2 separate regions of the Homo sapiens genome follow, and region 1 is linked to region 2. Evidence: fine-mapped expression QTL. Tissue or cell type: whole blood. Region 2 holds a variant in brackets; the other region holds the start of a gene. All regions are shown on one strand. Distances are from middle to middle.

Region 1 (5,891 bases), 53 kb before region 2:
AATTAGGTGACATTATGTCCGTTTTACAGATTAGGAAACAGGCACAGACAGGTGACTGGCCCAAGGTCACACATCTAATAAAATAGTGCAATTTTAACCCAGGCAAGGTACAGAACTATAGGGGATGACCCAGTATCAAGTTTCCCTTTTGTTTTAGTTTTGGTTCCCTGATAGCAAGTCTGAGACTTGAGTGTAAGTCGTTTATGTGGGAGGTGATCCCTGGAAGCAGAAGTAAGGGGTGGGAGGAATGGGACAGAGGGTGTGTTAGTGAAGTCAGTTGTAGCAATAGGGCTGAGTACTTCTGGTCTCTGAGAAGGTTCCAGAAAGATCTGAATGGTCTAGAACACCTCTCTGAATCGTCCACCTGTGACAGCACAAGACTGGCATTTACTCACCGGCTCCTGCCCCCATTAGTGAATGGCCTGGCACCTCTGGAATGGGCAGAGCTCCCACAGGGATGCCCCATCTATCAAATGGGGATGGAGATAACAGACTCGTCTCATAAAGCTGTTAGGTTCCATGAGTTAATATATGTAAAGCGCATCAAACCATGCTGGGCACATGGAGAGCACTCAGTAATGTATGCTATGTATGACCTGAGGGAAGAGCGTTCCATGCACAGGGAACAGCAAATGTAAAGGGTCTGAGGCCAGGACACATTCGCTGTGGAAGAGGCACAGCAAGGAGGCCAGTGTGACTAGAGTTGACTCCGGGGCTTGAGGAGTGGAAGGTCAGAAGGTGTGAGCCACTGCATCCAGCCAGGGAAGGTTTCTTCACTCTTAAAAAGAGGCTCGAAGGGATGTCCTAACTTCCACTTGTGGACATTCGCATGTAATGATGTGATGTTTTGAGCTACAGTAGCCATCTTGGGACCATGAGGGGCACACCGCAGGATAACAGAACACCAAGGATGATGGCACAAAAGGATAGACAGAACCAGGGTCTTTTTTTTCTGAGAGAGTCTCACTCTCTCACCCAGGCTGTAGTGCAACGGCATGATCTCAGCTCACTGCAACCTCTGCCTCTCGGTTTCAAGCAATTCTCCTGTCTCAGCCTCTGGAGTAACTGGGACTACAGGCGCGCGCCACCATGCCTGCCTAATTTTTGTACTTTTGGTAGAGACAGGGTTTCACTATGTTGGCTAGGCTGGTCTCGAACTCCTGGCCTCAAGTGATTCGCCTGCCTCAGCCTTCCAAAGTGCTGGGATTACAGGTGTGAGCCACCGGGCCCAGCCAGAACTGGAGTCTTTGGTCACATTGTTCAACTGCCTCTTTACCAACCTTGGACATACCTACCTCCAAACATTTTATTATGTGAGAAAACAAACCTTCTTATTGCTTAAGCCATTTTGAATTGGGCCATAGATATCTTAACACAGAGAATTTGATACCAGGAAATGAGGCCTCCCTGGGTACACCATGATGATAGAATCAGGCCAGAGCTCCACTTTTCCACTCTAGAAACTGTTATCCTGCCATTCTTACTTCCTGTAATGAGGAAGATGTTTTAGAAGGGATAACTTCCCTCTTGATGAAATTCTCTAATTCTGAATAATTCTGGGGCTGAGGTGTGGGTGTCAGTTCTACTTCTTGAAATAAAGTATCATTTAGGTGCGCACGGGAATTATGTTTCGAAAGGGAAAGGCTGGAGTCTTGGTGTCAGTGTTCTAAGGTTTTGTGAGAGACTAAGAACCCAAAATAAATGATCTTCAACAGCAAAATGGATGTTATGCAATTCACAGAGCACTATGAGCACTCTCTCAATTCACACAACTTTGAGTGATGGGCAGCATGACTTCATTTTACAGACGGGGTTCAGAAAGTGTCAGCAACTGGTGGAAGGCAAAGTAGAAACTCCTGGCTCCCTCCTTCGTCTCCAGTTTTCTCCAGCTGGCAGGGTAAGTATGCATTTCTCCATGTTCGTGCCATTCAGGTTGAGAAGGAAGACAAGCAAACCAGACATGCTTGTCTTCGACCGAGTCTGGGATCGTCCACCTTCCTGCTTGGAGTTGGTGGTTAAGTGGCCCCACAGTTTGGACTCGTGTGACCTGACTTTCATTTCAGCTGACCTTGAACAGCGGGTCTATAACTGCACCTACTTCCAGTAGTGTTGTAATGACACAAACAGACAGTGTGGAACTTGAAGGCAGGGCCCACCCATTGTCAGCGCGACTCCTGAGGGCTCCGTGTGACAGTCACTGTTGCTGAACCAAGGCAGCCAACGGTGGGGTAGAAGGCGGACTCTGGAGCCAGACCGTCTGGATTTGAACGCGGATTCGGCCACTTACTAGTTCCGTGATCTTGGGTACATCACTTAAACCTGTGTCTCAGTCTCCTCTTCTGTAAAATGGGAATAACAGTCATACCTTCCTTGCAGGGTTGTTTTGAGGTTCAGATACGTTAATACACGTGCAAAATGTTCGGAACGACTCCAGACACAGCCGGCGCCAGACTGGAAGTGGAACCGCTGGTGGGGATCATAACCTCGCTGGCTAGGAACCCCAGCAGCGGGGCAGCAGCGCACCGCGGGCTTTGCCGACTCACCCTGGCTGGGCAGGTCCGCCGCGCTCTCCCCCGCCCCCGCCCCCGCGGCCTAAGTCGGCCCGGCCGGTGCGTCACCCGCGCCCCTCCCGCCCCGCGACCTGCAAACTCACCCTGAGTCAGCCCGCCCGGGCGTTTCCACTCCCCGGACGCCGCGCGGCGCAGGGGAGGCGAGAGGCGCCCCCCGGTGGAGAGCCTGAGCCCCGCGCGAGTCTGGCGGCACCTGGCGAGCGGAGCCGGAGTCGGGCTGGGGACCGCGGGGTCGAGGCCGGACCGCGGCGGGGTCGGGGGAGAAACGCGCGCTGCCCTGGCACGGGCCCCCCCCCCCGGCCGCGCGGAATGGTATGGCCCGGCCGGAGTTAAGGCCGGGGGGAGGCGGCGAGTCCCGCGGCGGCGGCGACGATGGGGCTGCGTGCAGGAGGAACGCTGGGCAGGGCCGGCGCGGGTCGGGGGGCGCCCGAGGGGCCCGGGCCGAGCGGCGGCGCGCAGGGCGGCAGCATCCACTCGGGCCGCATCGCCGCGGTGCACAACGTGCCGCTGAGCGTGCTCATCCGGCCGCTGCCGTCCGTGTTGGACCCCGCCAAGGTGCAGAGCCTCGTGGACACGATCCGGGTGAGGCCTCGGGGAGTCCAGCCAACCGGAGGGAGGGCTTCGGAGGAGGGAGGTTGCCGGAGGAGGGAGGTCGCTGCGATGGACGCGAGACGGACTGGTTCCGGGCCCAGCCGGAGCTCAGCCTCTGCTGTGTGACCTTGAGCAAGTAGCTGGGCCTCTCTGGGCCTCTGTTTCCTCACTTGAGCAAGGAGGGAATTGGGCGAGATAATTAAAGTAGTGATGATAACGCTTATAACGCTAGTGCTTGCAGTGGTCCAGGAACTGCAGGAAGTCCCTCAGTTTCCTATGCCAACCCTAGGAGGTAGATAGTGGCTCTTTTGCAGACGAGAACTGAGGCAGGGAAGATTTCAGCGGCTTGACTAAGATCAGGCGCTTAAAAAGTGACACGGCTGGAATTCACACCCAGGCAGCCTGGGCCCCACTGCCCAGCACATGGCCACCGCACTACCCGGAGATAAGCCGTGGGCTCTCATGGCTGTGACAGTCAGTGACAGTGGGACTAGGTGTGTCATATCTGCTGGGAGGCCCTTGTCTGAATGGGAAGTGGGAGAGGTCAAGGGTCAGCTCCACCACTGAGGAAGGGTGTTAAGAATACCGGAGTGATTCTGGCAGGAACTTGGGGGCCCCGCAAGAACAGGTGTCAGGTTAGGCCTACATAACGTTGTGTCCCCTTCCCCCGACCCTTGGAAGGTGAGCACATGAGATCCCTAAGCCCCACCCAGCACCTCTACAGCCACCCCCGATAACTTTCAGTCCTAGTATTTACACTAGTGTCCTCACTGCCTGGAGCCACTTCCCCAGACAACCACAGGGCCTGCTCCCCTGCCTGGTTCAGCTCTCTGCCTCCTTGATCACCCTTGGTCAGAGTCACTGGCCTCTCTAGCTCTCCCCTTAGCCCGAGATGTTTTTCAGGATACCACTTATGTCCACCAGAAATTATATTATACATCTATTTGTGTTGCATTTTATTTTCTGTCTTCCTGACCTCACGTGCACTCCACAAGGGCGAGGACCTCGTCCCATCTTATCTGTTGCCACAATAGTAGCACGGCGCCTGGCTGAGATGGGAAGGGATCTGCCATGCATGCCCTGTCCCACCACTGGGCTTTTTCTCCCGTTGAGAACCTCTTCTATCTCTGCCTTGTCGTTTCTCACTCTTTCTCGGTCTTCCTGTCTCAGTGTCAGGATCTTCCCTGACCATCCCTACCGGGTTAGGAGCTTCTGTGGGCCTGCAGCCACCTGTGTGCCCACCTGCATAGCTCTGATCTCACTGGCTTTTTTTTTTTTTTTTTAAGACGTTGTCTGGGTCTGTCACCCTGGCTGGAGTGCAGTGGCACGATCTTGGCTCACTGCAACCTCCGCCTCCCGGGTTCAAGCCATTCTCCTGCCTCAGCCTCCCAAGTAGCTGGGATTACAGGCGCCCACCACCACGCCTGGCTAATTTTTGTATTTTTAGTAGAGATGGGGTTTCACCCTGTTGGCCAGGCTGGTCTGAAACTCCAGACCTCAAGCGATCTGCCCACCTCGGCCTCCCAAAGTGCTGGGATTACAGCCCACTGGCTTTTAACGTCCTGTCTAGACACCTGCCTTCCGTGCTAGAACCGTAGGCTCTGAGGGCCAGAACCAGCTCTGCCTTTGCTTACATACACCTGTATTAGTTTTCTGGGGCCACTGTAAGTTACCACAAAGTTGATGGCTTAAAACAACACAGGTTTATTTATGGTCAGAAGTCCAAAATGGGTCTTACTGGGCTAACACCAAGCAGGGCTGCACTACTTTCTGTAGGCTCTAGGGGAGAATCCATTTCCTCGCCTTTCCCAGCTTCCAGACGCCACCCACACTGCTTGGCTTATGGCCTCTTCCTCTGTCTTCAAAGCCAGCAACATCAGGCCAAGGCCTTCTCACATCGCATCACTCTGACCTCTTCCTCTACTTCCTCTTCCAGTTTTAAGGACCCTGATAATGGCATTCGACCCATCTAGATAACCTTGGATAATTTCCGCATCTCAGGATCCTTACCTTAATTCTGTCTGCCAAGTCCCTTCTCCCATGTAAGGTAACACATTCAGAAGCATTCGGGCGTGGACATCTTTGGGAGCCATCATTCTGGCCATCCACCATCGTGCCTCCAGTACCCGGCACAAGGCCTGCCTGGCACGGCTGCCCTCCTTAGTGCTCCACTAATGCCCGGTAGGCATCAGCTCACTGACTCTTCATCAGCAGCCCTCTAGGATGTTTTATTCCCAGTTTACAGGTGAGGAATGGTGTTCAGAGGGCTGTGTGCCCCAGCTGCTGTGGAGAGGAGCTGAGATCCAAAGTCAGGTGTGCCAGGTTCCAGAGCTCAGGCTTGTGACTGCTGCACCTTACTGCTGAATAATCATTTGTGGAATCATGAGAGAGAACCCGTGGACCAGCAGCAGGAGGCCTTCCACGCCGCTCACACTTAATGGGGTCTCCCCAGAGTGCTCTACCCTGCACCCGTCCTGCCCCAGACTTTCCCTGTTTAGAGGATGACCTACTCTCCACCTGGCTGTGTGGGCCCCTAACAGGAAGTCAACTTAGATTCTCCCTTTTCTCTTGCCCTTGGATTCACCCCTTCTGCCAGACCCCTTGGGCCTGCCCCGTAAATGTGTCCCAAACCTGTCTACCTCTCCCTGTCCCCACCACACCATCATCCAGACCAGCATCTTCTGCTGAATACCTGCAGAGGCCTCCCCTCTGCCTTCCAGCCCTGTGCCC
Region 2 (5,891 bases):
GAAGGAGGGCCCCAGGGGGCCGGGGTCCCCCACCCAGGAGAGCTTTCCAAGCACCCTCTACCTCACTTCCCCGCTGTTTCAGGAACACTGGTCGTGCTTATCCTGTGTCCCAGCGTGGCTGTGCTTCCCCCTTTGGGAGCTGATTAGGAAAGCACATTGCTCCCCCTGCGCCTACCCTCCCAGGTACAGCCAGCCTCTGGCAAAGCCACAGGAAAAGGACTGTGGCCTTGTCAATGGCAGGAAGCCTGGGAGTGGGGGCAGAGCAGACACTTGGGTGCTCTGGCTGGAGGCCCACTCCGCCACCAGATTTGCTGGGTGACCCCAGAGATGTTGCTTGACCCCTCTGGGCCTCCCTGGCTCAGTCTCTAACTAGTAAGAGCAGCTAGAACAGAAAGATAAGTATTTGTTTTGCTTTGTGAGATAGTTTTTAATAGACCCTGTATGCACTGGTAAGTAATCCAAGTTGTATCAAATGGTATGCAGTGAAAAGTACAGACCTCCTCAGGCCCCTCCCCAGAGGCAGCTTCCTGAGTGTCCTTCCAAAAAAGCTTCTATACTGATAACTGTTTCTGAAAAAATATTTATAGGTTTCTCTGCCTGTGCTTTCATTGTAAAACAAATTCAAAATGCTATAAGACTCTAGAAATATCACTTATCCCAGAGACAGCCACAGTGAAGACGATAATCCCACCGAGTATTTTTTGTTGTTTTGTTTGAGATAGGGTCTCACTCTGTCACCCAGGCTGGAGTGCAGTGGCACAGTCATAGCTCGCTGCAGGCTTAACCTCCTGTCCTCAAGTGATCCTCCCACCTCAGCCTGCGGAGTAGCTGGAAATACGGGCATACACCACCAGGCCTGGCTAATTTTATTTATTTGTTTATTTTGTAGAGACAGGTTCTTACTATGTTATGCAGGCTGGTCTCCAGCTCCTGGGCTCAAGCGATCCACCTCAGCCTCCCAAAGTGCTGGGATTATAGGCATGAGCCACTGCGCCCAGCTCTGCAGCGTTTTTGTTAAACTAGCACACATACGCTTAACAAATCATTTAAACCATGCTAAGTTTACGCTTTTTTTTTTTTTTTAAGATGGATCTCACTCTGTCACCCAGGTTGGAGTGCAGTGGCGTGATCTTGGCTCACTGCAACCTCCACCTCCCGGGTTCAAGCGATTCTCCTGCCTCAGCCTCCTGAGTAGCTGGGAGTACAGACGTGCACCACCACGCCTGGCTAATTTTTGTATTTTTAGTAAAGACGGGGTTTCACCATGTTGGCAAGGCTGGTCTCGAACTCCTGACCTCAGGTGACCCACCCATGTTGGCCTCCCAAAGTGCTGGGATTACAGGCATGAGTTACTGCGCCCGGCCAAGTTTACACTTTTTATGGAAGTATAAGACACATTCAGGAAAGTGCACAGGGTGTAAGGGTACAGCTCAATGGATTTTCACAAGCTGAGCACACCTGTACACCCAGCATGGAGATCAAGAAATGCAATTAGCAGCTTCCCAGGAGCCAGCCCCTCTTGCACATCTACACATACCGGTTCTTTCCTTTGAATGAGACACAAAAAAGAATAAACTGACAATAAGTCTCCTTCTCTCCCAGCCACCAGCTCCAGTCCCCAGAGGCAATTGCTATGTTAAGGTAACCAGGATCCTATGGATTCCGGCAGAGATGGTCTGCATATATAGGCAAATTACATAGATATTGTTTTTCCACACAAGTGGTAGCATTTCACACACTCCTCTCTGCACTGGATTTTTTTTTCTTAACTGTACTTCTTGGAGACCCTTGGTTGCTTACAGAGCTGTTTCACACCTTTTCATAGCTGCATAGTGCTCCATTATGCATATTTTGCAGCTTGCTATCTTCCTGGTAATGGACAGTTAATGCCCATGAGCCTTTGTGAGCTGCAAGGTCAGCCCACACACGTGACCGGGGAGAAGCACAGGTGTGGTCTGCATATATAGGCAGCTCCTCTGGGGAACATTTTGTAACATTGTCCGCTCCCCCAGCATGCCTGTCGCCTCCGGGATGGTCCAGCCCAGCCAAGCTTCTCCAGGCCAACTTGAGGCCACAGGAGTAAAGCTGCTCAGGGAGAAGAAATCCAGGACTGAAGGGGTTGGAATGACCGACTCAGCCAGGCCACCTTGGACCCCAAAGGGTTACACTCTCCCTGCAAGTCTTGACACATGAAGCAGCAGCACAAGAATAATCTCAGAGTTCATCATTTCACAATGAAGAAAGTGAGACAAGACAGAGGGCAACCTGCCTGGGGTTCCCCAGCAGGTCCTTGGCCCTGTTGGGACACCAAGAACACAAATCTCCCTCCTTGCCATGCAGGGCTGTTTTCTCTGACTCCACAGTTATGAGCAGGAAGGCCTCAGAGGTCACCCATGGCAACCTGAAGCTCAGAGAGGAGCGGTGATGGGCCACGGTTGCACAGCATCTGGAGCTGAGCAGGGCTGAGAACACAGGACCTCTTGCACCCACAGCACTTCAGGTTCCCCTCATTGTCCCAGGCCACTCCCATTTTATGAGGCTTTTATTAGGTTAAAAAATGAAGCACTACAAAAAGAGAGTGCTGAAGACTATGGCATATTTGGTAAGTTAACTTTTTTTTTTCTTTGAGACACGGTTACACCCTGTCACCCAGGCTGGAGTGCAGGTGGCACGATCATGGCTCACTGCAGCCTCCACCTCCTGGAGTCAGGTAGTCCTAGCGCCTCAGCCTCCTGAGTAGCTGGGACTACAGGTGTGCACCATGATGCCCAGCTAATTTTTTATTTTGAGGGGGTTTCGCCATGTTGCCCAGGCTAGTCTCAAATTCCTGGGCTCAAGCAATCCTCCAGCCTCAGCCTCCCAAAGTGCTGGGATTACAGGTGTGAGCCACTGTGCCTGGCCTGGCAAGTTAACTCTTAACTACCTCCACACAG[TCAGG/G]AGCGTGATGCATTATTGTGGAACACCATATAATTAGAGGATTTATAGAAACATTGGTTCATGGGACGTACATATGAAGTTGGATGTCTTTGTTCAACCCCATCTGTGTCTCTTACGACTGTATATTTTACCTCGTGTAGTTGTGATATCAAGTATAGACCTGAACAGGTAAATGCGATACATGACTTTGAACTGGATCCTGTACTGCAGAGGGGAAAATGTGACAGGGGACCTTCTTGGTAGAGTTGACAATTTTTTTTTTTGAGACATGGTCACACAAAATTGGGATATGAACAATAGATTAAGGTATTGCATCAAAGTTAAATTTTCTGTATTTGCTAACAGCACCCTGATTGTGTCAGAGGATATCCTTGTGCTTAAGAATTACATCCTAGGCCGGGCGTGGTGGCTCAGCTTGTAATCCCAGCACTTTGGGAGGCCGAGGTGGGCGCATCACCTGAGGTCAGGAGTTCGAGACCAGCCTGGCCAACATGGTGAAACCCTGTGGTGGCAGGCGCCTGTAATCCCAGCTACTCGGGAGGCTGAGGCAGGAGAACTGCTCGAACCCGGGAGGCAGAGGTTGCAGTGAGCCAAGATCGCACCATTGCACTCCAGCCTGGGTGACAGAGTGAGACTCCGTCTCAAAAAAAAAAAAAAAAATACATCCTGAAGTACTATTAAGGAGAAGTATGATGTAGGTAACGTGCTCTCTCAAATGGTTCAGAAGAGAAATAATATATGTGTGAGAGAAAAGGATAGAGTAAATATGACAAACTTAAAATGTGGTGAATCTGAGTACAGGGTATATGGGAGTTCTCTGCACCACTTTTGTCACTTTTCTGCATGTTGTAAATGATTGCAAAATGAAAAGTTAAAAAGAAGTTGGGATCTTGGCCTACTGTGATGCGAGGGCTGCCAAATGGTGTCCTGGCCCCCTCTGATGCACCCTGGCTTTAGCTTGTCCAACAGACGATGGAAAATATCCCCAGCAGACCCAGGTGCCTCTGCTCGTGACTCTCAGGCCCCTGTGCCCCTTAGGAGGCTAAGGTGGTCCCATCCCCCGAGTCTCCTGCCACCATGATTTATGTCCCTATGAGCCTCAGCAGCTGTGAGCACAGGTCCCACTGGGCAGCCGGCTGGGGGGGCTGGCGTTTGCTTCTCAGCGTGTCTAATCCAGACCAGATTTGCAGACCCCATGGGCCTGGGATAGAGCTCCCAGGGGGCTAGGGTCAGAGGGCAGGCCAGCAGGGCCTGGAAACCAGGGAGGCACTCAGGATGAACAGGCTGCGAGACAGAAGACCTAGCCTATTCTAGGTTGGCCACTGCTCCTGTGTGACCCAGGGTAGGCGTCTGGCCCTCTCTGGCCCTTGCTTTTCCTCACGTCAGCACGGCCAGCAACTTTGTCAGCTGGGACACACTGGCCTTGTGGGAGGGAAGGCTGATAAAATCTAGGAGTTGTTTTTTTCTGAATGGCTTGGAAAAATGCCTGACTCTTTTGAGGACCTACTACGTGTCAGGCCTAGGCTATGCACTTTACATAAAATAAATACAGCTTCGCGGGGGGCAGTGGCTCATGCCTGTAATCACAGTGCTTTGGAAGGCGGAGGAGGGCAGATCACTTGAGGCCAGGAGTTCAAGACCAGCCTGGCCAACATGGCCAAACCCCATCTCTGCTAAAAATACAAAAATTAGCTGGGCATGGTGGTGCGTGCCTGTAATCCCAGCTACTCAGGAGGCCGAGGCAGGAAAATCCCTTCAACCCAGGAGTTGGAGGTTGCAGTGAGCCGAGATTGCACCACTGCACTCCAGCCTGGGCAATAGAGTAAGACCCCGTCTCTAAATAAATAAATACATACATACATACAGCTTGCTCAAAAGCTGGTTAGATATGTATTATTATTGCTCCATTTTATAGATGAGGAAACGGAGGCACAAGGAGGTTAAAGAACTTGGCCAAGGTGACACAGTGGCTGGTGGATTTGAATCAGATGTTCTAGCTGCAGAGCCCCACTGGGCTCTCAACCACCACCCCCACATGACCTCACCAGGTGCGTGCCTAGTCCTGATGTTGATGGAACTGACTAATCCAAGGCACTTCTCTGAGTGACATACAGAGATGGCCTCACTTGCAACAAGCCACATAGGTAGGTACTGTTGCTATCCCCATTTCACAGACTAGAAAACCAAGCCCAAGGGCACCCAGCTAGGCAATGGCACAGCCAGGATTCCAACTGAGGGGGTCTAGCTCCAGATCCCACAGCCTGCATCACAGCAGGAGGGTAAAACTCAGCAGGAGGCATGGGATAGAGTGTAACATTGTAGACCAACATAAGGCTGGCAGACTTTGTCAGTCAGTAAGTCCGTCAACAAACATGTTTTGAACTTCTCCATGAACCACACAAGGCTCTAGGGATGATCAGAGAATAAGCCAGATGTAGTACCTGACCTCATGGAGTTTACGGCCTACTGAAAAAGCAGGCTCTGAGCAAATAATAAAAATGGGATGGGTGCTTCTAAGTTATGTGGGAACGCATGGCTGGGAGACCTGTGTCGTCATTAGGAATGATGCTTCCAAGGTGAGAGAAGGCTTTGCCGAGTGTGAATGGTTCTGCAGCTTCCAGGCCACCCCTGCATCAGTATGAATGATGGGGCACCTGCAGGACCTGGGTCTCCCCTAAACACAACCCCTGAATCCCCAACATATCTCCTTTGAGTGCCCAGAGCAGCCCCATGAAGCTGTCAAAGCAACAGAAGGCTGGTTGGACAGAAGTCGAAAATAAAAGCAAACACTTACCTAGCACCGCCTCAGTGCCAGGCACTGTTCCACGGCCTGTAACTCATTTACTCCTCTACGACCCAGTGAGACAGGCTGTCACTATCCTCACACGGCCATCAAAGGACAGAACCGGGATGTGGACTGAGGCTGGGTCCAGAGCCCACTCTCTTCACCTCCC

Evidence for each region. PIP is the estimated chance that this variant, and not a neighbour inherited with it, causes the effect.
Region 1: SRXN1 starts here. The variant in region 2 is fine-mapped to the expression of SRXN1 in whole blood (INTERVAL, PIP 0.95).

The regions. Positions count from the first base shown.
Region 1 is chr20:650,237-656,127 of GRCh38, reverse strand. It overlaps SRXN1 (sulfiredoxin 1), which reads left to right and starts at 2,928. Exons shown (of 2, transcript NM_080725.3): 1 at 2,928-3,152. The coding sequence starts at 2,943. LOC107985423 (a long non-coding RNA gene) reads right to left here and starts at 3,175. Exons shown (of 2, transcript XR_001754452.2): 1 at 2,654-3,175; 2 at 1-2,339. RefSeq lists a silencer at 2,491-3,050.
Region 2 is chr20:596,876-602,766 of GRCh38, reverse strand. No RefSeq gene overlaps it. Among named protein-coding and RNA genes, the nearest start is that of TCF15, 10 kb to the left of the region's middle. The variant TCAGG/G (reference allele first, on the strand shown) is at 2,934.